7 linked regions of the Homo sapiens genome follow. The protein of the gene in region 3 purifies or fractionates together with the protein of the main gene of each other region. This does not show direct contact. Each region holds a gene or a part of one and is shown on either strand. Other genes may lie near its edges. The genes, in order: IKBIP, STX18, CLEC12A, PBXIP1, MAN2A2, STX8 and VAMP4.

The links.
Region 1: the proteins of CLEC12A (region 3) and IKBIP purify together in Homo sapiens (affinity purification with mass spectrometry; 2 studies listed by BioGRID and IntAct, with this or other methods). This does not show direct contact.
Region 2: the proteins of CLEC12A (region 3) and STX18 purify together in Homo sapiens (affinity purification with mass spectrometry; 3 studies listed by BioGRID and IntAct, with this or other methods). This does not show direct contact.
Region 4: the proteins of CLEC12A (region 3) and PBXIP1 purify together in Homo sapiens (affinity purification with mass spectrometry; 3 studies listed by BioGRID and IntAct, with this or other methods). This does not show direct contact.
Region 5: the proteins of CLEC12A (region 3) and MAN2A2 purify together in Homo sapiens (affinity purification with mass spectrometry; 3 studies listed by BioGRID and IntAct, with this or other methods). This does not show direct contact.
Region 6: the proteins of CLEC12A (region 3) and STX8 purify together in Homo sapiens (affinity purification with mass spectrometry; 3 studies listed by BioGRID and IntAct, with this or other methods). This does not show direct contact.
Region 7: the proteins of CLEC12A (region 3) and VAMP4 purify together in Homo sapiens (affinity purification with mass spectrometry; 2 studies listed by BioGRID and IntAct, with this or other methods). This does not show direct contact.

What each region holds. Positions count from the first base shown.
Region 1 is NC_000012.12:98,634,789-98,638,288, forward strand, and holds part of IKBIP (inhibitor of nuclear factor kappa-B kinase-interacting protein), read right to left. Parts: intron 1-3,500. UniProt on the Homo sapiens protein: Target of p53/TP53 with pro-apoptotic function.
Region 2 is NC_000004.12:4,437,549-4,441,048, forward strand, and holds part of STX18 (syntaxin-18), read right to left. Parts: intron 962-3,500; coding exon 846-961; intron 1-845. UniProt on the Homo sapiens protein: Syntaxin that may be involved in targeting and fusion of Golgi-derived retrograde transport vesicles with the ER.
Region 3 is NC_000012.12:9,974,409-9,977,908, reverse strand, and holds part of CLEC12A (C-type lectin domain family 12 member A), read right to left. Parts: intron 1-3,500. UniProt on the Homo sapiens protein: Myeloid inhibitory C-type lectin receptor that acts as a negative regulator of myeloid cell activation. Myeloid cell inhibition is required to limit proinflammatory pathways and protect against excessive inflammation.
Region 4 is NC_000001.11:154,949,600-154,953,099, forward strand, and holds part of PBXIP1 (pre-B-cell leukemia transcription factor-interacting protein 1), read right to left. Parts: intron 2,323-3,500; coding exon 2,196-2,322; intron 1,937-2,195; coding exon 1,872-1,936; intron 1,799-1,871; coding exon 1,633-1,798; intron 1-1,632. UniProt on the Homo sapiens protein: Regulator of pre-B-cell leukemia transcription factors (BPXs) function. Inhibits the binding of PBX1-HOX complex to DNA and blocks the transcriptional activity of E2A-PBX1.
Region 5 is NC_000015.10:90,906,302-90,909,801, reverse strand, and holds part of MAN2A2 (alpha-mannosidase 2x), read right to left. Parts: intron 3,433-3,500; coding exon 3,305-3,432; intron 3,063-3,304; coding exon 2,889-3,062; intron 2,494-2,888; coding exon 2,307-2,493; intron 476-2,306; coding exon 298-475; intron 1-297.
Region 6 is NC_000017.11:9,502,821-9,506,320, forward strand, and holds part of STX8 (syntaxin-8), read right to left. Parts: intron 2,343-3,500; coding exon 2,218-2,342; intron 1-2,217. UniProt on the Homo sapiens protein: Vesicle trafficking protein that functions in the early secretory pathway, possibly by mediating retrograde transport from cis-Golgi membranes to the ER.
Region 7 is NC_000001.11:171,721,566-171,725,065, forward strand, and holds part of VAMP4 (vesicle-associated membrane protein 4), read right to left. Parts: intron 1-3,500. UniProt on the Homo sapiens protein: Involved in the pathway that functions to remove an inhibitor (probably synaptotagmin-4) of calcium-triggered exocytosis during the maturation of secretory granules.

The sequences.
Region 1 (3,500 bases), about 89 Mb from region 3:
AAGCTCCGCCTCCTGGGTTCACGCTATTCTCCTGCCTCAGCCTCCCGAGTAGCTACGACTACAGGCGCCTGCCACCACGCCTGGCTAATTTTTTGTATTTTTAGTAAAGACGGGGTTTCACTGTGTTAGCCAGGATGCTCTCGATCTCCTGACCTTGTGATCCACCTGCCTTGGCCTCCCAAAGTGCTGGGATTACAGGCGTGAGCCACCACGCCCGGTATTTTTTTTTTTTTTTAGATGGAGTTTTGCTCTTGTTGCCCAGGCTGGAGTGCAATGGCACGATCTCGGTTCACTGCAACCTTTGCCTCCTGGGTTCAAGCGATTCTCCTCCTCAGCCTCCCAAGTAGCTGGGATTAAAGGCACCTGCCACCACGCCCCACCAATTTTTTAATATTTTTAGTAGAGATGGGGTTTCACCATGTTGGCTAGGCTGGTTTTGAACTCCTGACCAGTGATCTGCCCGCCTTGGCCTCCCAAAGTGCTAGGATTACAGGCATGAGCCACTGTGCCCAGCCCCAAGGTGGTCTTGAATTCCTGGCCTCAAGTGATCCTCCCCTCAGCCTCCCAAAGCGCTGGGATTACAAGTGTGGGTCAACATGTCCAGCCTAGATGCAGCTTTTATCAGTTTCTTTTGACAGATTTTCATGTGGTAGGTACTGGTTTAACTCATGCAAAGATGAGTAAAGCACTGCCCTTGTTCACAATTCACAGCCCACCAAATAAGATGGTGTGATATCTGTAATAGATGCATGCACAAGAAATATTTTAGAGGAGGACAAAGTGAAAAATTTAGAACAAGATCTTTGATCTCTACTGTTTTTCACAAGGCCATGATTGGGTAATATCTAGAAAATAGGTGTTTTTATGCTGAAATGTAGGCGAAACAAGAGTCGTCTATAAAAAGTATTTTAAAACTGAAATGTAGAAGAGTTGACTGATAAAAAGCAGTGGAGTAGAAGAGAGAAGTGATAGTAATTAGAAGTTGCAAAATAGCAGGAGGTGTGAAAAGAGGTATGAAAATAGAAAAAAGCCATTGCCAAAGTGACAATAGATCACAATCAGTGCAGAGTGTATAAACTGCACAATTGGTTATACTCAGTGATGTGACTCGTATAGGTGTACTTGAGATGTCACTCTAAAATTGGAGTTTATTCTTCATTATGGGTGGAAGCCCAAAAAGCTATCTCAATCTTCAAAACAACAAATCAACATCTGTTTATACAGGATTTGAAATGAGCAAGCATAAAAGAATTGTCTTGGATCCAATACCATTTTGTCTACTTTAACTCAATTCTTTAGGCTCAGAAAAAAACACTTGAAATTCTTTGCATATTGAGTCATCAAAACGCAATGGAGCAGAACCATAAGTACCTGCCTAAACACAGTCCTGAGACAAGTGGTTCAAAAGCTTTGCTACATATTGTAATAACCTGGCAGCTTTAACAAATCTGATGCCTGGGTCTCACAAAGATTCTGATTTAATTGGCTTGGGATGTGGCTTGGATGTTGGAAACTCAACAGCTTCTCAGGTAATCTAAGTGCACAGCCAAACTTAGAACCATACTGACTGACCATGTTTTGTGAAATTCATTTCCACTGAAAGGCAATCATTTAAAGATCCCAAGGATTAATGGAGAGGTGAAAGACTTTTCTGAGTAAATGCAGTTATCTGAACTTTGTGCATCCTTGCAAAAGTGGTAATGCTTTGAATTCATAAATGGCATCATTAGGCTAACCGTAGCTACAAAACTGTCCAAAGCTAAATTAGACAAATGTTTACAATACTGGAGGAAATACATTTCTTTTGATGATGCTGGCTAATTTCTATTATACGGGATCCCAGGTTACATTATTAGCACAGATTGACTTTTCTCCTGTGTTTAAATTAATAGGAACCTTTAAAGCTTCTGGTTATTAGAAAACACTATTATCCTAATTCTCTGAGATGGAAGGGTGAACATAATTCTTTTTTCATTGGCTGTTTCATTTCTGGCTTTTAGGATTTTTTTTTTTTCCCCCAGAGTATTGGATATCTAAGACCAGCAGATAGAGACCTTATTAAGAAAGAGACCACCCTAAAGAAATAAGAGTTGCCCTCCTCACGCCTTCCTGTCCCTCCCTGCCAGGGGGGAAAAAAAAAAAGTAAAAGAAGAAACACAGTTCATTTCAGGGACTAGTTTTATTATCCAATACTCCACCATAGATCTATACTATAGATTAGCGAGTTTATTCAGAATGAAATCATTATTATAAGAGACTTTCGTATGAAGGTTGATTCATTACAAAAAATACATTAATGAACTTTCTCAGAACTTCTTTTCAAATTCAAGCTTTAAACACAACCTGTGTCATGTTAGTGGAAATATCATCTCTGATAATTAGTAGTTTTTTTTGATTAGCCTCTTACTAAAATAAAAAAAAATTCATCCTTGCTACATGTGAACGGTGCATATAAGAAAAAAGTACAAAGCTGACTCAGCACTAGTGATGAAAAAAATGAAGTGATATGTGCTGTGCTGCGTTAAAATATATTTTATTTTTCCCTTATTTGTGCCAGACACTATTCTAAGTACTTGATAAATATTAATTCATTTAACATTAAAGAAGATGATTGATTTTTCTTTCTTTTTGTTTTTTTTGAGATGGAGTCTCACTCTGTCACCAGGCTGGAGTGCAGTGGCACGATTTTGGCTTACTGCAACCTCTGCCTCCCGAGTTCAAGTGATTCTCTTGCCTCAGCCTCCCGAGTAGCTGGGACTACAGGCGTGTGCCAACACACCCAGCTAATTTTTGTATTTTTAGTAGAGATGGGGTTTCACCATGTTGGCCAGAATGGTCTCGATCTCTTGACCTCATGTTCCGCCTGCCTCAGCCTCCCAAAGTGCTGGGATTACAGGCGTGAGCCACCGCGCCCGGCTTTTTTCTTTCTTTCCTTTTTTTGAGACAGGGTCTCGCTCTGCTGCCTAGGCTGGAGTGCAGTGGCATGATCTTGGCTAACTGCAACCTCCACCTCCCAGGTTCAAGTGATTACAGGCGTGAGCCACCGCACCCAGCCTAGATGACTGATTTTCTAGAAGTCAAGAAAATATGCTGAGAAAGCTGCTTCAGATCTGAAAAACTAAGCTTTCAAACTGGCATCCATGTTAGGGTATAAGGTCCTTTATTTCCTTTTTATGAGTCAGGGGCATATTCTAGTGAGAGCAGTTCCCAGTCTTCCCATTTAGATGAGAGTGAAAAACAAGCAATTAGGGTCTGCTAAAGGGTATACCTTCAAGTAGAAGGAAGAAAAGAACTATAAGTAATTCTGGACTTGGGGATTTCTATTTCTAGGATCTTGGCCTTTTGTTGGGGATTAATATCGAATGGAGGCAACGAATCATACTGATTAGGTGGGTGACTGGACTGCCTTAGCTCTGCCATTTACTAAGCTGTATAACCACTTTGGGCAAGTTAAATAACTTTGATGTTTCCTCATCTGTGAAGTGGGGATAATACCTTAT
Region 2 (3,500 bases), on a different chromosome or scaffold from region 3:
CCCAAGCATTTCAGATAAGAGATACTCAACCTGTAATTTCTGTGACATGTCCAGGACCATGCCTAGCATCTGGAAGACAAGAGTTAATAAGAACTGCCATGAGACTACGGAGAAGGATGCTAAAGGGGACTCCCAGGTCTCTCCTGGCTCCAGCACGCCATCACCCTGTGATTCACACAAAGAACCCTGCTCCACTCTGCCTTTGAGATATGGCAAACTATGCAGGCATCCCTACGCAGGGGTACCAGCCAGACACACAGATCGCAGACATCCATGACCACACTGTGTATGTCCCCCTACATTTTCGGACTTCATGGAGACCCTGTATTTCTTCTGCATCTCCTGTGCATCAGGAACTATTCTAAGCCATGGGCCCTCTAGTATCTGTGGTGATAGGCAGCACGTCAATTCAGATTTGCATTTTGTCCTGTTGGTTTGACTGGCTGTGCAAGGCTGCTGAGGTTATACACTCTACCCGGATGCAGGCCTGGCAGCTCAGAGCTGACATGCAGGGCATGGCTGCCAGGGAGGCAATGCTGCCTCTCCTGAGGCCGGCACACAGGGCTCCTGAGGCAGACAGCTCCCGGCCTCACCCCTCCAGCAGGCCCTTTCTCCCGGACCCCGCCAGCTCCCAGGTGACTGGGTGAATGCACCCCCTGCCTCTGTGGCACTCACGAAGATCAACTGTGACAGACACAAAGGCTGCCGCCTCCTGCTTCCTTTGCTTTATGCAAATACAAACACCAAAACATGTCTGAGACTGTGCTACTTCGTTCCTGTGCTGTACTCTTGCCAACATGTCACAAGGAAGAAATGCAAGGTGAGATTTTCATCTCAATTCGTACCTGGACGTTCTTCAGTGGCAGGGTTTTCTTCAGAGTCTTTTGAAGGACTCTGTGAAACTTTCTCAGAAGATGTGGATTCTCTTGTCTTTGTATTTGGTTCTGGTTCCAGCTTAGATCTAAAAATAAATAATTAGCAGGCAGGTATTTTATTTCCATAACAGGATTCCTTTTTGAAAACAGAAGGAGTCACATGTGACCCTGCGCTTTTGCTCTGTGTCCCTGTACTGGGGAGCAGTCACTGCCTCTGGGCCCAGTGGCCATCCGGACACACCTCCACTGGGGCACTTAACACTGGCATTATTGCCTGCAGGGTAGAGATTGTGCATGCCCTCTGCATTTGCAGCCACGGCACAGTGACCAGCATGCAGGGGGAGGCTGCAGTTGGTATGTGCTGAATACGCTCCATAGACTGACACACCGCACTCAACAAACCCAGGAAGCTGGATTGATGCTTACCCAGTAGTTGACACTAATGCAAAAAGATTGCTGAGTATGTTATTAATAATAATATATAATACATATTATACATATATTCATATATATATATATACCCCCACACACATATATACCCCCAACACATGTATACCCACACATATACACACACCACACACACACATATATACCACATATATATACCCATGCACACATATATACATACCCTCCCACATATATACCCACACACATATATACCACCACACATATACCCCCACACACATACCCCCACATGTATACACACAATATATATACCACATATATATACCCCCCACACATATATAACCCCCTACATACACACATACCCCATATATATACATACATGCATGTATATCCCCCACATATACACACACACCACATACATATATTCACATATACTCACCCACATAAACACACACACATATATACACACACATACCCACACATATACACATACCATATATACACACCCACATACATATACTACATATATATACCCCCCACTCACATATATACCCCCTACATACACACACACACCATATATGTGCAGATATGTATATATACCCCCCACATATACCCTCCCCCACACACATATATCTACATACACATATATACATACACACACACACTCATATATACCCCCACATATACATACACATATACTCCCACATACACACACAGAAACACACACATATATACCCCCTACCCATATATATACACACACACACCCCCACACACATACCCCCCAACATATATACTCATACACACACATATATATACCTATACCCACACACGTATATGTTCTAAGTCACATCTTAATATAAGTTAGCTCTGAAAGCACAAGTCCTTAAATACCCACTTGAAGGCACAGACTTGTTTCAGGACTGAGTCCTCTGCACTTGGCATTCCCCTGTTTCTTCCCCACGGGCTCTTCCCAGGGCATCGTCTTCCTTCCCATCTACAGGGCTCAGCTCAATTTCACCTACTCAGAGAGGCCACCTCTGACTCTTCTGTGAAGGAAAGGCCGCCTCCCACTCCTCTGCATCTGTTTTCTCCATAGCAGTTATCACAGTCTATAATCCCCCTGTTTATTTATCTGTTGGTTGTCAGCCTTGCTCCTAGATCCCAGATTCTGGATTAGTGCCTGGTATTCCATTGCATAAATATATGTTGAATGAATGAGTGCATTATAAATACAAGTAACTGGTTAATAAGAAAACGTTTAGGTTATGCAATAACAGGCTTTGTAATAGCTTTACTAGAATCTACATAAATGCTATAAAATTATAGGCAGAGTGCTATCTAGGATAAATTCCATATTGTTAGGCAGAGAGACTGTAATTAAAGGAACAATGTAAATGCATATTAGGGTGATATTACTAATGCCAGCTAACATTTGTTAATGGCTCATATAGTGGACATTTTTTCTAAGCAATTTGTATGGATAAATTTATTTAATTTCGAATATCCCCATCAGGTAGGTACTAGTATTAACAACCTTTTAACAAAGGAGGAAACTGAGGTGTAGAGAAGTTAGGAAACTTGCCCAGGTCACAGTCAGCAAATGGCTGGGCTGGGACATGACCTCAGGGAACCTAGCTCTGAAGCCCATGCTCGTAACAACTGCTCCATGTGGGGTATATTCTACCCATCCTGGGCTGTGGGAAAGGACTTCTGTGGTCGAATCAGTCTGAGAAAGCTGAGTCAAAGCTAGAAAGGTGTTTCACTATATAAGTTTTCAGAGCCTTTAATATGCTCAAATACATTTTGAATTTCCAAAAAGGATGGTATTTGCAAATAACCTGATTGCAGACACTCTCTTCACAGAGTTTTTTGAGAGCAGTTTTCTCAAAAAGACTATTTAGGAAATGGTCCTCTACAAAATTTAACAAAAAATTTTTTCAAAAGTCACTGTTATCAATCTTTTTAATTGTTCTGGTTACTACAGCTGAGTCATAAAACTTAGTGCCTTGAAACAGTGAGATTTATTACTGATCACTGCTTCTGGGGTCAGGAATTTGGGAACACCTTGGCTGGGTGGTTCTGGCTCTGTGTGTCTCAGGAGGGTGCAGTTAGAAGGCAACTAGGGCTGCAGTCATCTGAAGGGCTGACCAGGGCTGGAGGGTTCACTTCCAAGGAGGCCACACACATGGCTAGCAAGTTGGTGCTTGCTGGGAGCCTCAT
Region 3 (3,500 bases):
AGTTTATTTATTCAATGAACTTATTCAATTATTAAAAAGTTCAATTATTCAAAAGTTATCTTTTGAGTGCCTTGTATTTATTAGACATTATCCTGGGTGCTAACAATATCAAAGTGAGCAAGATGTACAAGTTCCTGTTTTCACAGCTATAAATTTTAATTGTAGGAGGAAATAGATAAATAGATATATAAGTGAGACAGGGAGAAAGAAAGAAAGGGAGAAAAGATCTCAAATTTGGCGATGTTGTGCAGAGATTTAAAACTAAGCTGTTATAGAGAGCAGGCAGTTCAAATCTTATGAATAGGAACCAGCATGCAAAATAAGTAGGAAGAACATTACAGGTAGCAATTACATGAAGTTCAAAGACAATAATTTAAGGAAAAGATTTCTATTTGAAAAACAGAATATATTCAGAGGGGCAGAAGAATTGTGGCCAATGTGAAAAATGATGTTAAAGGTTTTATTTGTTTTCTTTTGTTTTGTTTTTAAAATAACAAGGAGGAGACATTATTTACAGCCTTTTCTAGCCAGAATAAGTTAGATTTTTGGGGAAACCACTGGAAGAATTTAATCTAGGAGGGCAAAATAACAGAGTTGTTTTATCAGTAAGAAATCTGTTACAGTATGACATGTGAAAGAGAACAGAAGTTTGACTAGCTAGTACTAGGGAATTTGATGACCCATGGATAAATTAAGTATACATTTCTAAGCTAAAATCTATTGCAAAAATTTCTGAAATTTTTCTTTAGAGAAAGTTGGTAGATATGCACATTTGTAGGCAGTATCTCATAGTGATAAAAAGCAAAACACCATCTTTAGGGTTAGCATGTGTATTAGTCCATTTTCACATTGCTAATAAGACATACCCAAGACTGGGCAATTTATAAGGAAAGAGAGGTTTAATGGATTCACAGTTTCACGCGGCTGGGGAGGCCTCACAATCATGGTGGAAGGTGAAAGGCACACCTCATATGGCAGCAGACAAGAGAAGAAAGAACTTGTGCAGGGAAACTCCCCTTTATAAAACCATCAGATCTCATGACACTTATTCACTATCACAGGAACAGCACGAGAAACACCCCTACCATATGATTCAATTACCTCCCACGAGGTCCCTCCAACAACACGTGGAAATTGTGGGAGCTATAATTCAAGATGAGATTTGGGTGTGGACACAGCCAAACCATATCATTCCACCCTGACCTCTCCCAAATCTCATGTCTCACATTTCAAAACCAATCATGCCTTCCCAACAGTCCCCAAAAGACTTAACTCATTTCATCATTAACTCAAAAGTCCACAGTCCATCTGAGACAAGGCAAGTCCCTTCCACCTATGAGCCAGTAAATTCAAAAGAAAGTTAGTTACTTCCTAGATACAATGAGAGTACAGGCATTGGATAAATACGGTCATTCCAAATGGGAGAAATTGGCCAAAACAAAGGGGCTACAGGCCCCATGCAAGTCCAAAGGGCACCAAATCTTAAAGCTCCAAAATCATCTCCTTTGGCTCTATATCTCACATCCAGGTCATGCTGATGCAAGAGGTAGGCTCCCATGTCTTTGGGCAGCTCTGCTCCTGTGGCTTTGCAAGGTACAGTCTCCCTCATGGCTGCTTTCATGGGCTGATATTGAGTGTCTGCAGCTTTTCCAAGTGGACAGTGCATGCTGTCAGTGGATCTACCATTCTGAGAGCTGGAGGACGGTGGTCCACTTCTCACTGCTCCACTGGACAGTACCCCAGTGGGGACTCTGTGTGGAGCTTCTGACCTCACATTTCCCTTCTGCACTGTCCTAGCAGAGGTTATCCATGAGCACCCCATGCCTGCAGCAAACTTCTGCCTGGACATCCAGGCATTTCCATACATCCTCTGAAATCTAGACAGAGGTTCCCAAAACCCAACTCTTGACTTCTGTGCACTCAAAGGCTCAACACCACATGGAAGCTACCAAGGCTTGGGGTTTGCACCCTCTCCGAAGCCATGACCTGAGCTGTACCTTAGCCTCTTTTAGTCATGGCTGGAGCAGCTGGGATGCAGGGCACCAAGTTCCTAGACTGCACACAGCAGAGGGACCCTGGGCTCAGTCCATAATACCATTTATTCCTCCTAGGCCTCTGGGCATGTGATGGGAGGGGCTGCTGGGAAGACCTCTGATATGCCCTGGAGTCATTTTCCCCATTGCCTTGGCGATTATCATTTGGCTTCCCATGACTTTAGAAATTTCTTCAGCTGGCTTGAATTTCTCCTCAGAAAATGGGATTTTCTTTTATTTATCATTGTCAAGCCACAAATTTTCTGAACTTTTATGCTCTGCTTCCCTTATAAAACTGAATGCTTTTAACAGCACCCGAGTCACGTCTTTAATGCTTTGCTGCTTAGAAATTTCTTCTGCCAGATATCCTAAATCATCCCTCTCAAGTTCAATGTTCCACAAATTTCTAGGGCAGGAGCAAAATGCTACCAGTCACTTTGCTAAAACATAACAAGAGTCACCTTTGCTCCCGTTCCCAACAAATTCCTCATCTCCATCTGAGACCACCTCAGCCTTATCACCATTTTTGTCAAAGCCATTCAAGAAGTCTCTAGGAAGTGCCAAACTGTCCCACATTTTTCTGTCTTCTTCTGAGCCCTCCAAAGTATTCCAACCTCTGCCTGTTGCCCAGTCCCAAAGTCTCTTTCAGATTTTTGGGTATCTTTACAGCAGCGCCCTACTCTATTGGTACCAATTTACTGCATTAGTTCATTTTCACACGACTGATAAAGACATACCCACAACTGGGTAATTTATAAGTAAAAAGAGGTTTAATGGACTCATGGTTCCATGTGGCTGGAGAGGCCTCACACTCATGGTGGAAGGTGAAAGGCACATCTCACATGGCCACAGACAAGAGAGAACTTGTGCAGGAAAACTCCTCTTTATAAAACCATCAGATCTCATGAGACTTATTCACTATCACAAGAACAGCATGGGAAAAACCCGCTCCCATGATTCAATTACCTCCCACCATGTCCCTCCTACAGCATGTGGGACTTATGGGAGCTACAATTCAAGATGAGATTTGGGTGGAGACACAGTCAAACCATATCAGTATGTTTTGGTTTGAATTCTGGTTCTGCTGCTTATTGCTTGTGAAACCTCGGGAAAATTATTTAACACCTTTTAACATCTCTGTGTCTGAGTTTCAATATGGTTAAAGCATGGGAGACAGAAAGACTGCAAAGTATCAGACACTAAATAATTTAATATTTATAATGCAATTAGAACAGAACTGGCACAGAGAAAACACTTGAAAATTGTATTTAAATATATATTTATATGTGTATTTAATGAGATGAGGCTGTCTGGAGAGAGAGACAATTTTAGAAGAAAAATAAATATTACTATTTTTGACATTTTAAGTTTAAAATGAGATTAGAACTCCTTATGGAAATGTGAAAGTGGCACATGTATTTTCTAGTCTTGAGATTCAGGGAAAGGTCATACAGAGATATTGGGGAG
Region 4 (3,500 bases), on a different chromosome or scaffold from region 3:
ACCTCCCATACCTGGAACAGTGTTAACTGATCATGGCACCTGGCATGTTCTTTAAATCCTTTTCCACACAGTGCTCCAGGCAGACCACACCAATCAATCACAGGTGATACCATGTATGTTTCATGTACCATGTGGAACAGGTATGCCAGCCCTGGCCCAAACCTTAGCACAAGGGATGTGAACCAAGAACTGGGAAGACGCCCTGACTATAGTGGGAGAGGGGAGGGTCAGGATGTGTGGGTAAATAGGAAACATTCCTTTTGGGGGAGGATGCTAGGACAGACGCCTGGCCTAGGTGGGTTACCCTAGCCCAGCCCCTCCTGCCTGTGCCTCCCAAAGTGTGAGGATTACAGGTGTGAGCCACCACACCCAGCCTATTTTTATTTTTATTTATTTTATTTTATTTTATTTTATTTTATTTATTTTTATTTTTTGAGGCAGAGTCTACCTCTGTAACCCAGGCTGGAGTGCAGTGGCACAATCTTGGCTCACTGCAACCTCCGCCTCCCAGGTTCAAGCGATTCTCCTGCCTCAGCTTCCCAGGTAGCTGGGAAGTAGCTGGGACTACAGGCGTGCACCACCACACCGAGCTAATTTTTGTATTTTTAATAGAGACGGGGTTTCACCATGTTGCCCAGGCTGGTCTCAAACTTCTGACCTCAGGTGATCCACCCACCTTGGCCTCTCAAAGTGCTGGGACTACAGGCGTGAGCCACTGCACCCTGCCGCCTATTTTTATTTCCTTTAGAGACAGGGTCTCCCTCTGTTGCCCAGGCTAGAGTGAAGTGGGATGACCATGGCTCACTGCAGTCTTGAATTCCTGGGCTCAAGCAATCCTCCTACCTCAGCCTCCCAAAGTGCTGGGATTATAGGCACGAGCCACCATGCCTGGCCCAGGTCTGCATCATCTTTGCCTGACCACTGCAGTTGCCTCCTAAATGGCCCCCAGGCCCTCCATCCTGTCACTCAACAGGGACCAATTCCTACACTCCTCTGCCACAAGCCTGGAACAGAGCTCCTTAGCACAAGACAGGTGGTCCCCACTCCTTTGCTGATGCTGCAGCCTTGGCCTAAAACATTCTCTTTTCCCTGCCCTACGTACCAAAAGCCTACTCTGTGCTCAGGGCTCCACTCAAATGTCACCTCTCACTGTCCCAGCCTCTCCCTTGCCCTCAACCAGTCCCCTGACTGAATGGCCTCTCCTTCCTTTGGGAGTACCTTAATTACAGTTCTGTACCACTCTTAGGTCTGATATGCACCTTGGCTCAGTCTGATCTGCCGCTTACATAGGCGGTAACCAACCATCTTCCCTCTGCCCAGGCCCAGGGCCAGCACAAGGAAGGGACTCCAGAAATGAGGGTTGAATTCTGGAAGCAAGAAAAGAGGAGGTCCCCATGGCAGAGAGGAAAGAGTCAACCAGATGTGGGCCCTGCCCCTTACCAGCAGTGTGACCTTGGTCAAGTCATTCAACCTTTCTGGGCCTCAACGTCCCAGGGGTAGTGGTGAGAAAGGAGAGCACCAAGCTGCTCAGCCCTAGGGCCTGGACCACAGCATGTGCTCAGTAGTGATGGCTGATCCCTCTCCCATACCTTCTAGAAGGAGAGTGACAGGAGAGGCAAGGAAGACTCTCACCTGCTTTGGGGGTTGAAGGCAGGCTCTGTGGAGGGCTCTGGCCTTCCAGGTCCTGTGTGTCTGGTCCCAGGCCTGTCACCACGGTGGTCTCCTGCAGGTCTCCCTGGACTACTGTGTCTCCTGGGCCAGGAGGCTCCACACCACAAACATCACCTTCCAGGGTGCCCTAATGCAGATGCAGCAGTGAGCAGCTGCTAGCCCTCCCCGCCTCCCTTCCTTCCCACAGCAAATCTCCTCACCTTGACCTCAGTCTCCTCTGTTAGAATGCTGCCAGACTGAGGGCTTTCAGTCTGGAAGAGCGTCCCTGCGGTAGGAGAAAAGGCGCAGAAAAACCCACTGCCCCAGCTGAATTTCCTTTGCAGCCCTCTGTCCATCCCACGGGCCCCTACCAGGTTGGAAGAGGCAGGAAAAAGCCAGGATGGAATGAGAAAAGGAGTTTGTCAACTGAGATTAATGGAGGAACTAAAACGAACCAGCCTCCCTTTCTCTGAGGAAACTGAGAAACCCCAAAATATGGAGAATAGCTTTGTCCGGTAAGCTATGTCCTAAGCAGGGCCCAGTACCTTCTCCATCCATGGTCCCAGCTAATTCTTTCCCATCTGTCTTGGAGGGGCTGTGAGGGGCCTGCAGGGCTCTCTCAGATTCTGGGTCCATCCTGGATGCCGGGCCCAGTGTCTCCACTGGCAGGCTCTGGGAGGAGAAGTGCAAGGAGAAGGGCTGCACCCAAGAATGGGGCCCCAGCCCACATCCCAGAAACACACACATTCAGTCATGAGCTGGCCCAAAAAGGGGCTCGGGGCAGCACCAAGTGCTCGGCATTCCCCAGCCTCACTCACTGCGAGGAGGAACTTTCAGGGGCCAGGTTTCCGCTACACAGCGCCGCACCACCAGACCAAGGCACTGGTTGCAGTACAAACCTGGTGCCCCGCCTCCAGAAGGTGAGCTAGAGCCTACGTTTCCCTCCCATCAAGATCAGCAGCACTTCCTTCCCCACAGATGAACAACCCAGATATTATAATATTAAGGGTGGGAAGAAGGCAAGAGAACAAAGTCCCCTGGGTGCCCACGGGTCACAGTTATGCCTCCCAGGGTGTCCCTGCAGCTGCCCTCTCAACTGGACAACTACTTACATCTCTCAAGCCTTTCTGGCCTTTCCCGCTGGCCCCTGACACTCCCCCGACACCCGTCTCCCAGCAGCTGCTCACAGAAGCCCAACCCACCCCAACCACAGACAGCCTGTCTCCAGGGCACTCTCAGCCTGGACATCCAGCCCTGGCCACACAGCCTCGGCCTCCTCCCTCTGCCTACTCCCCTTCCATAGGGCCCTGGCCTGCCACCCGCCCCGTGGCTCCAACTATCCCTCTGAGAGTAATGCTTCACCTTAGTTATGTCTTTGCTATTTTCAAAACATTTTTATTCTCATGGTCCCCCCTACAAGGCAAAAATCATGACGCCCGTTTTACAGGAGAGGACAGAGAGGTGAAATGGCATGCCCAAGGTCCCCCAGCTGTCAACAAAGACACCTCAACAGGAGGCCAGGGCTCTGAGAGCCTGGTGCCCGTCTGCTCATACCTGCCTTCCCTCTGCCAGTGAGCCCCAGTCCATTATCTTGCTCCAGCGTCATCCCCAAGGTCAACTCCTTACTCCCAGCTGGGTTCCTCAAGGGCACCTCAAACTCAACATGTTGAAACTGAGCTTCTCTCCTCCTCCCCTCCTGGTGGCTCTAATATACAAAGTCGCTACGTCTTGGAACTCTCAGAGATGCCTTTGACAAATTTTTGCCATCCCTTCTCTAGCCACTCAGTTCCCCATCCTGCCAACCCCCTTCTCCCTCCTCAGTGGGCTTCTGCCCCACCAGCTGCTACCTG
Region 5 (3,500 bases), on a different chromosome or scaffold from region 3:
GAAACCCCATCTCTACTAAAACTACAAAAAATTAGCTGGGTGTGATGGCAGGCACCTGTAGTCCCAGCTACTTGGGCAGCTGAGGCAGGAGACTGGCGTGAACCCGGGAGGCGGAGCTGGCAGTGAGCCAAGATCGCGCCACTGAACTCCAGCCTGGGCAACAGAGTGAGACTCCATCTCAAAAAAAAAAAAAAAAGGGGGGCACCCTGCCCGAGTTGGGAACCCAGGGCACGGTCTCACGGGAAGGGATGGGCTGCAGCACTGTGAGGCCCCTCCCCAGTCAAGTGCCCCTCACACCTGCACATGGAGGTTAGGCCTGCTGTTGAAGAAGTCAAAGAGCCGTTGGTAGTTGAAGAACTGGGCATCCCACTCCTGGGGCTTGTCATATCGGAAGTCATCTCCAAGAGGCACCAGGAGGACGTTGCTTCGGAACAGCTGGGACTTCTTCCGGTATTGGTCCAGAAGCAGGGCTGCCCTGGGGCAGGAAAAAAAACATGGGCCCACCACGAAGTCTCATCAGTAAAAGAGCACCACGCACAGCCATCCCGCCAGCAAGCCCCTAGAAGACATCCCATCCACCAAGGAGTGGTTCAGCGCAAACAGACACCTCCTGCACATGAATCCCAGCCCCAGGGGAGTCCGGTGCTCTCTGGGCAGTTCTGACAGCTGACATGTTATTTTTTATGCTAGGCTGTTGAGATCTTTTGGGATCCTGGTTCTGACACTCCCGCCTCATTTTGCCCACCAGTTAGCGATGCAGCACCAAAGTGAAGGGTCTGGACCCCGGAGCCATATCACACCAGCTCCACAAGTACTAGCTCAGTGACTGTGGGCAAGTAACCTCTCTGAGCCTCCATTTCTAGCAAAATAAGGATAACATCCGTAGGTACCCATATAATGTTATGAGAATTAAAATGGATTGAATGGGCCGAGCGCAGTGGCTCACACCTGTAATCCCAGCACTTTGGGAGACCGGGGCAGGCAGATCACCTGAGGTCAGGAATTCAAGACCAGCCTGGCCAATATGGTGAAACCCTGTCTCTACTAAAAATACAAAAATTAGCCGGGTGTGGTGGTGCACATCTGTAATCCCAGCTACTCAGGAGGCTGAGGCAGGATAATCACTTGAACCCAGGAGGCGGAGGTTGCGGTGAGCCGAAATTGCACCACCGCACTCCAGCCTGGGTGACAGACTCCATCTCAAAAAAAAAAAAAAATTAAATTAAATAAATAAAATAAAATCAATGAATGAATATTTGTTAAACACTTAGAATAGTGCCTGGTACATAATGGGAACTATATATAAACATTTCTTTTCTTTTCATCCAAATTATTGGCAAAATCAGTAGAAAAACAGCCCTGTGGCACATCAGCAGAAGCCCTTTCCTACTTTAATTGGCATGTTATAAATATCACAGTCCAAAGAGTCAACTAATCTACTTAGCGGCGCTGGCCCAGCTTGTACTTTTCTACTCTGTTCTCATGAGAGGATTCCTCAAATACCACTTTCCCCTAACTTATCAGTCTAGTAAGCCTTTCAAAGGAGAAAATGGTTACCTTTCAGGGCCTGTTCTTGTAAACCTAGGCCAGCCTCACTGATCACAACTGCTGCTTTAAGAAAAGTCACGCCCTCATAGCCCTAGATTCTTGCCTGGAATCGCCATTTAGACTTCTGGAAACAAAAGACCACTTTATTTCCCTTTTGGTCACGTTTCAACTCTTGGACATCAGGGAGAAATCAGAGCATTGCAACATAAAAACCAATCCAACTTGTCGTATTCTTAAGGTTCTGACTAAATTGCTGTTTGGATCAACTCTTACCTAACACTTTCCCCCGGGGCCTGATTTCAGCAAGAGTGCTATCTTTAGGGGTCCCTAAATTCTCTCAAAAGGGACAGGTCTGTTTTCTCAGAGGCTGGAGGCTATCTCGTGGGACTGAATGTGGATCTGAACAGGATTCTCGTGGTTGACTTAAAGCCAAGTCAGAACACTGGCACTAAGTGAAGGCACATGAGCCTGAAGTTTGTAACATACATCTAACCTGGGAATCCTTCACCTCTAAGTTGTCAGCTGGCCCTGGCAGTTTGTTAGGGCATCAAGAAGTACTCATGTGAGAACCTAAAAGCATTCTGTGAAAGGTGGTTGCAAGAGCCATTCCAGTTTTTCAGGAGACTTAGTAAGGAGCTGCTGCTGCAGAGGCTAGGAGCCTCAACTCACCACCTGAGCCCACCCTCCACGTGGCACGGCCCAGACCAGAGCCAGGCCTCCCGATTCCTCTGTGAAGTGAAAGGGCTGGAAGCAGATACCTCTCTGCCACGTTGGCCTCTGTGATGGCCCGGGGTGGCACCTTCCAAGGGCAGTTGATGCGCCCACCAGGCAGGCGTTTGAAATCAAATTGGCAGCAGATCTTGGGATCTGGGCCACAGGTATGGGGGACGTCATAGCTGTAGAAGGGCATCATGTGACAGAAGATGTCTGTGCTGGAGTCCGAGTCTGCAGGAGACACACCACGTGGTCACCACCAGCAGGCAGCCTCTGGACGCCAGGGGGGCAAGGATCTGTTCAGGCTAAAGGCAGCCCTGATAGACCGCGAGGCTGTAACTGGACCTAGGGCTGGAGAGAGTGTGTAGGCCAGGGAGAAAGACATGAGGGGCTCCCTCAGGGGACGGGCACACAGGGCACGCTGAAGCCCTTGGGACAGCAGGCCCTGTAGAGGCCAGAGGTCAATATGGCCCTCCCCTAACCAGAGGGTGCGACCATTTCTGGCAGTCCACACCAGTGCCTGCAGGTCTGCTCTGAAGAACAGTGGGGGTCTTAGTTCTGATATCCCTGCTGTTCCCCAGTGAAGACTATGCTGCAGTAACCCCCTCTACCCTACCCGGCCTTACCCCATGTCTGCCTCCACATGAACTCTAGGCTGTGGGTGGCAGCAAAGTGCTTCTTGATGGCATAGTGCACTCTCTGAATCAGCATGCTGGTGAGGTTGGCACGGCGCAGCAGGTAAGGCATGGTGGAGCTGTATCCAAAGGGGTCCACTGCCCAGCCAGAGCGGGGGGTTGCACCTGGGCAGGGCATGGAAGCCAGAGAGGCCCTGAACACACCTCAGGGGCTGGCCCCCCGGCCTTCCAGGTGCTGGGACCCCAGCTCTTGTCCTGGTAGTGAGTGGAGAGATGATATCACACCAGGCCCACATGGTGGGATCTGCCTAGAAAGGAACCACCCCCTGCCGATCCCTGTGCCTTACAGCCCCTGCCTGTGCCTTACAGCCCAGGGGGCAGACCCCCATGCCTGGGCCTGGACTTACCAAGATTTCTCTCCAGCCACTGGTGTCCTTCGATGAGCTGGTCAATCAATGCAAAGTAGTGGGAATTGGCCTCATCTGGCATCACCCAGCCTCCTGTCGCAATCTCCAGCTGCCCGTTTCCCACCAGCCTATAGTTAAGGACTCACACTCAGGACGGAGCAGGACACTCTGCCCAGTCCTGCCAACCAGCAAATGT
Region 6 (3,500 bases), on a different chromosome or scaffold from region 3:
GGCCGGGCGCGGTGGCTCATGCCTGTAATCCCAGCACTTTGGGAGGCCGAGTCGAGTGGATCGCTTGAGGTCAGGAGTTCGAGACCAGCCTGGCCAGCATGGTGAAACCCCATCTCTACTAAAAATACAAAAAAAATTAGCTGGGCATGATGGCGGGCGCCCGTAATCCCAGCCACTCGGGAAGCTGAGGCAGGAGAATTGCTTGAACCCAGGAGGTGGAGGTTGTGGTGAGCTGAGATCGTACCACTGCACTCCAGTCTAGGCAGCAAAGCCAGACTCTGTCTCAAAAAAAAAAAAAAAAAAAAAAGAGTGAAATACTGATACACATAACCAGTTCAATGAATCTTAAAATAATTATGCTTAGACAAAGAAGCCAGAGCCCCTTCTTCCCCAAAAGGTACATACTGTATAGTTCTATTTATATAAAATTATAGAAAATGGAAACTAATTTATAGTGACAGAAAGAAGTTCAGCAGTTGTCTGGGCATGGCAGGGAGGAACAATAGGAAGAATTACAAAGAGGCATGAAGAAAACTTTTGGGAATAACAATTAGGTTCATTATTTTTATTGCAGTGATGGTTTCACAGGCATATACATATGTCAAAGCTTATCAAATCATATACTTCAAACATGGGCCATTTATGATCATATCAACTACATCTCAATAAAGCTGACTTTAGATTTATTTTCTCCTCCTCCTCCTCCCTCTTCCTTTTTATTCATTAATTTTTTTAAAGATGGGATTTTACTATGTTGCCTAGGCTGGTGTCAAACTCCTACACTCAAGCCATCCTGCTGCCTTGGCCTCCCAAAGTGTCAGGAGTACAGGCATGTGCCACCAGGCCTGGCAATAAAGCTGATTTTAAAAAGCAGAATTAGAAAGAATAATGTATCTGTACATACTGACATTTTAAAAAGTCCATAACACATACTAAGTGGTTTTTTCTTTTTTTTCCTTTGAGATGGAGTCTCACTCTGTTGCACAGGCTGGAGTGCAGTGACATGCTATATCGGCTCACTGCAACCTCTGCCTCCTGGGTTCAAGCGATTCTCCTGCCTCAGCCTCCTGAGTAGCTAGGACTACAGGTGCGTGCCACCACACCCAGCTAATTTTTTATTTTTAGTAGAGACGGCGTTTCACCATGTTGGCCAGGCTGGTCTCGAACTCCTGATCTCAGGTGATCCTCCTGCCTCAGCCTCCCAAAGTGCTGGGATTACAGGCGTGAGCCACCACACCCAGCCGACACATACTAAGTTTTAAAAAGGTGTGGAATTATATATATATATGGAGAGAGCTAAATATCTCATGATTCCATTTATGTAAAATAAGTATATTTATATTGAATATATGTATGTGAATGTATACAAAAGGTCTAAGGAAATACATATTAATCTGTTTCCAGTTTGAGATTGGAGAAACAATATGGAGGGCTTTCATCTTATACATTCCTATGTTGTTTACACTTTGTATAACAATCATGCATACTTCTGAAATTTTAAAAATATAAGAAAGTTTAAAAAAAAAAAGTTAAAAAGCCACAGGGCAAAAGATAAAAAAGAAAAGCCAAACTGACATATTTTATAATTTAAAAAATAAAATGGAGTCTTGTGTTTGGAGACTAATTCCCAGTCGTGAAGCTAAAGTAAAGAGCATAAGCATCAAATTTGCTTGGACTTAGATTCAGATCTGCTCTCTCTGCTCTTGCCCAATGGAAAATCACCACTTCCATGAGCCACCGAGATGAGTGACAGCAACTGTCTATTCCTCAGGTATCCTGAGGCACACACCAAAAGCTTTAAAAGACCAGCAGTTTTCACTCCAATTTTCAATGGGGATGAGGAACAAACAAGGCTCCAGTAGAAAATCTGGTGGCCGGGCACGGTGGCTCACACCTGTAATCCCAGCACTTTGGGAGGCCAAGGTGGGAAGATCATGAGGTCAGGAGATCAAGACCATCCTGGCTAACAGGGTGAAACCCTGTCTGTACTAAAAATACAAAAAATTAGCCGGGCATGGTGGCACGCACCTGTAGTCCCAGCTTCTCGGGAGGCTGAGGCAGGAGAATCGTTTGAACCCGGGAGGTGGAGGTTGCAGTGAGCCAAGATCACGCCACTGCACTCCAGCCTAGGCGACATAGCAAGACTCCGTCTCAAAAAAAAAAAAAAAAAAATTCTGGCAAGGTTTCTGAGCCCACACTCCTCAGGATATTTAGTACCTTGGATAATTTTCTGCTGCTGTTGCCGGATTTCATCAAAACCCAAGCCTCTGGTCTCCTCTGGCTCCTCAAAGAGCCAAGGGTTGGGTGCTCCTCGCTTAGCCTCTTCACTCATCAGGCTGGACCTAAAGAACAATATTAAATGCATGATATATCTCAAAACATGCAGCTCAAATGCAAATTACTCCCACAAGTGCAGAGGTGGCCAGCCTTGAATGCTTTGAAAATTCAATTCAAACACAATTTATTGCATCATTAGTTTATGCCAGGAACTGTATTCAGTGCTGGACGAGATACAAGGATGAATAAGGCACAAGCTTGGTCCTCAGAATTACAGCCTGTTATAGAGATGATGGGAGAACATAATATTTGTACTAATCCTCCAAGAGATGTTTGAGTTAATAATCCTAAAAGAAGTTGGTAATAAATGAGGTTCTTAAATTTCAAAAACAGAAGGCCGAACAGCGGCCTTTTTATTAGGACAAAGTTTGTCTCAGAGGCTACGTGACCCCAAAGGTACAAATATTATTTCTCAAGCAGACACAATGTTGCGACTACAGATTACAATGTTGTTGTTGTTTTAAAAAAAGACCATATAATTTCCCATTAAAGGGTATTTGGAGCCGGGCGCAGTGGCTCATGTGTGTAATCCCAGCCCTCTGGGAGGCTGAGGCGGGCAGATCACCTGAAGTCAGGAGTTCCAGACCAGCCCGTCCAACATGATGAAACCCTGTCTCTAATAAACACAAAAAAAATTAGCCGGGCTTGGCGGCAGACATCTGTAATCCCAGCTACTTGGGAGGCTGAGGCAGGAAAATCGCTTGAACCTGAGAGGCGGAGGTTGCAGTGAGCCAAGATGGCGCCACTGCACTGCAGCCTGGGTAGCGGAGCAAGACTCTGTCTCAAAAAAAAAAAAAAAAAAAGGAGTATTTGGTTGCTCAGAGACAGAAACACATGCAGGGTTTCAATACCAATTTTGTGACTATAATGTAGCATTCATAACAGAATAAACACATTCTGATTTGTCAATCTTAACCTTACTCCCTCTAATAATCCATGTGCCCTTTCTGCACGAGACCAGTTGGTCTCGCTGTCTAAGGAACAGGAAACACATGATTTCCACCTCAGTCCCCATGTTTTCAGGATTTTTCTCCTCTCAAGTAGCTCCTCTCCTCTCCCCACCTGTCTGCATTCTGTCCAAGCTGAGAAGATCATCTTGTCCAGGACACGACCTTCTGACCAATTCAACAAAGAGATGAACATTAGACTCATCTTTAGAGCTC
Region 7 (3,500 bases), on a different chromosome or scaffold from region 3:
GAAAATCAATGTGCAAAAATCACAAGCATTCCTATACACCAATAACAGACAAACAGAAAGCCAAATCATGAGTGAACTCCCATTCACAATTGCTTCAAAGAGAATAAAATACCTAGGCATCCAACTTACAATGGATGTGAAGGACCTCTTCAAGGAGAACTACAAACCACTGCTCAACGAAATAAAAGAGGACACAAACAAATGGAAGAACATTCCATGCTCATGGATAGGAAGAATCAATATTGTGAAAATGGCCATACTGCCCAAGGTAATTTATAGATTCAGTGCCATCCCCATCAAGCTACCAATGACTTTCTTCACAGAATTGGAAAAAACTACTTTAAAGTTCATATGGAACCAAAAAAGAGCCCACATTGCCAAGACAATCCTAAGCCAAAAGAACAAAGTTGGAGGCGTCACGCTACCTGACTTCAAACTATACTACAAGGCTACAGTAACCAAAACAGCATGGTACTGGTACCAAAACAGAGATATAGACCAATGGAACAGAATAGTGCCCTCAGAAATAATACCAGACATCTACAACCATCTGATCTTTGACAAACCTGACAAAAACAAGAAATAGGGAAAGGAATCCCTATTTAATAAATGGTGCTGGGAAAACTGGCTAGCCATATGTAGAAAGCTGAAACTGGATCCCTTCCTTACACCTTATACAAAAATTAATTCAAGATGGATTAAAGACTTAAATGTTAAACCTAAAACCATAAAAACCCTAGAAGAAAACCTAGGCAATATCATTCAGGACATAGGCATGGGCAAGGATTTCATGAATAAAACACCAAAAGCAATGTCAACAAAAGCCAAAATTGACAAATGGGATCTCATTAAACTAAAGAGCTTCTGCACAGCAAAAGAAACTACCATCAGAGTGAACAGGCAACCTACAGAATGGGAGAAAATTTTTACAATCTACCCATCTGACAAAGGGCTAGTATCCAGAATCTACAAAGAACGTAAAGAAATTTACAAGAAAAAATCAAACAACCCCATCAAAAAGTGGGCGAAGGATATGAACAGACACTTCTCAAAAGAAGACATTTATGCAGCCAACAGACACATGAAAAAATGCTCATCATCACTGACCATCAGAGAAATGCAAATCAAAACCACAATAAGATACCATCTCACACCAGTTAGAATGGCGATCATTAAAAAGTCAGGAAACAACAGGTGCTGGAGAGGATGTGGAGAAACAGGAACGCTTTTACACTGTTGATGGGAGTGTAAACTAGTTCAACCATTGTGGAAGTCAGTGTGCGATTCCTCAGGGATCTAGAACTAGAAATACCATTTGACCCAGCCATCCCATTACTGGGCATATACCCAAAGGATTATATCAAGGGAACCACCCCCGATAATTCAACATAGGACCTTTTCTATTTTCCCTAAGTGTCGGCTGGTCTGAGTAATAAAGGGAAAGACTACAAAAGAGAGAAATTTTAAAACTGTGTGTCTGGGGGAGACATCACGTGTCGGCAGGTTCTGTGATGCCCCCCTACGCCGCAAAACCAGCAAGATTTTGTTGTGATTTTCAAAGGGGAGGGAGTGTACTAATAGGGTGTGGATTATAGAGATCACATGCTTCACAAGGCAATAAAATATCACAAGGCAAATGGGGGCAGAGCAAGATCACACGACTGGGGCAAAATTAAAATTGCTAATGAAGTTTCGGGCACGCACTGTCATTGATAACATCTTATCAGGAGACAGGGTTTGAGAGCAGACAACTGGTCTGACTAAAATTTACTGGGCAGGAATTTCCTCGTTCTAATAGGCCTGGGAGACCAGGGCTTATTTCATCCCTTATCTGCAACATATAAGACACACATTCCCAGAGCAGCCATTTTAGAAACCTCCCCTAGGAATGCATTCTCTTTCTCAGGACTGTTCCTTGCTGAGAAAAAGAATTCAGTGATATTTCTCCTATTTGCTTTTGTAAGAAGAGAAATATGGCTCTGTTCTGCCCAGCTTTCAGGCAGTCAGACCTAATGGTTATCTCCCTTGTTCCCTGAACATCGCTGTTATCCTGTTCTTTTTTCAAGGTGACCAGATTTCATATTGTTTAAACACACATGCTTTACAAACAATTTGTGCAGTTAATGCAATCATCACAGGGTCCTGAGGCGACATACATCCTCAGCTTACGAAGATGACGGGATTAAGAGATTAAAGTAAAGACAGGCACAGGAAATCACAAGAGTATTGACTGGGGAAGTGATAAATGTCCATGAAATCTTCACAATTTATGTTCAGAGATTGCAATAAAGACAGGTGTAAGAAATTATAAAAGTATTAAATTGGGGAACCAATAAATGTCCATGAAATCTTCACAATTTATGCTCTTCTGCCATGGCTTCAGCCAGTCCCTCCATTCGGGGTCGCTGACTTCCCACAACGGATTATAAATCATGCTGCTATAAAGACACATGCACACATATGTTTATTGTGGCACTATTCACAATAGCAAAGACTTGGAACCAACCCAAATGTCCATCAGTGACAGACTGGATTAAGAAAATGTGGCACATATACACCATGGAATACTACGCAGCCATAAAAAAGGATGAGTTCATGTCCTTTGTAGGGACATGGATGAAGCTGGAAACCATCATTCTGAGCAAACTATCGCAAAGACAGACAACCAAACACCGCATGTTCTCACTCATAGGTGGGAACTGAACAATGAGAACACTTGGACACAGGGTGGGGAACATCACACACCGGGTCCTGTCATGGGGTGGGGGGAGGGAGGAGGGATAGCATTAGGAGATATATCTAATGTAAATGATGAGTTAACTGGTGCAGCACACCAACATGGCACATGCATACATATGTAACAAACCTGCACACTGTGCACATGTACCCTAGAACTTAAAGTATAATAATAAAAAATAAAAGAAAATACTTAAGGATCAATTTGACAAAGAAAAAAATACAACATCTGGACACTGAAAACTACAAAACACTGCTGAGAGAAATTAAGTACCCAAATAAATAAAAAGATATACTATGCTCATGGGTCAGAAAACCAAATATTGTTAAGATGTTAATTATCCCCAAATTCATCTATAGGTTCAATATAATCTCAACCAAAATTCTAGCAGGCTTGCTGGAAACTGACAAGATGATTCTAAAATTTATATGAAAATGCTTAGAGCCTCCAATAGCCAAAAGAACTTTCAAAAGGCAGTGCAAAGTTGAAGGATATACACTACACTACCTCACAACTTACTATAAAGTCGTAGTACTCAGGATAGTGATTACTATGGTATTGATGTAAGAAAGACACATAGAGTCCAGAAATAGAGCCACACATATATAGTCAATAAATTTTTATTGTGGTAAATATATATAACATATATTTACTATTTTAACCGTTTTTAAGCATACAGTTCTGTGGCATTAAGTAATTCACTTAATGAACTGTCATCACCATTCATCTCTAGAACTTTTTCATCTTTCAAAACTGAAACTCT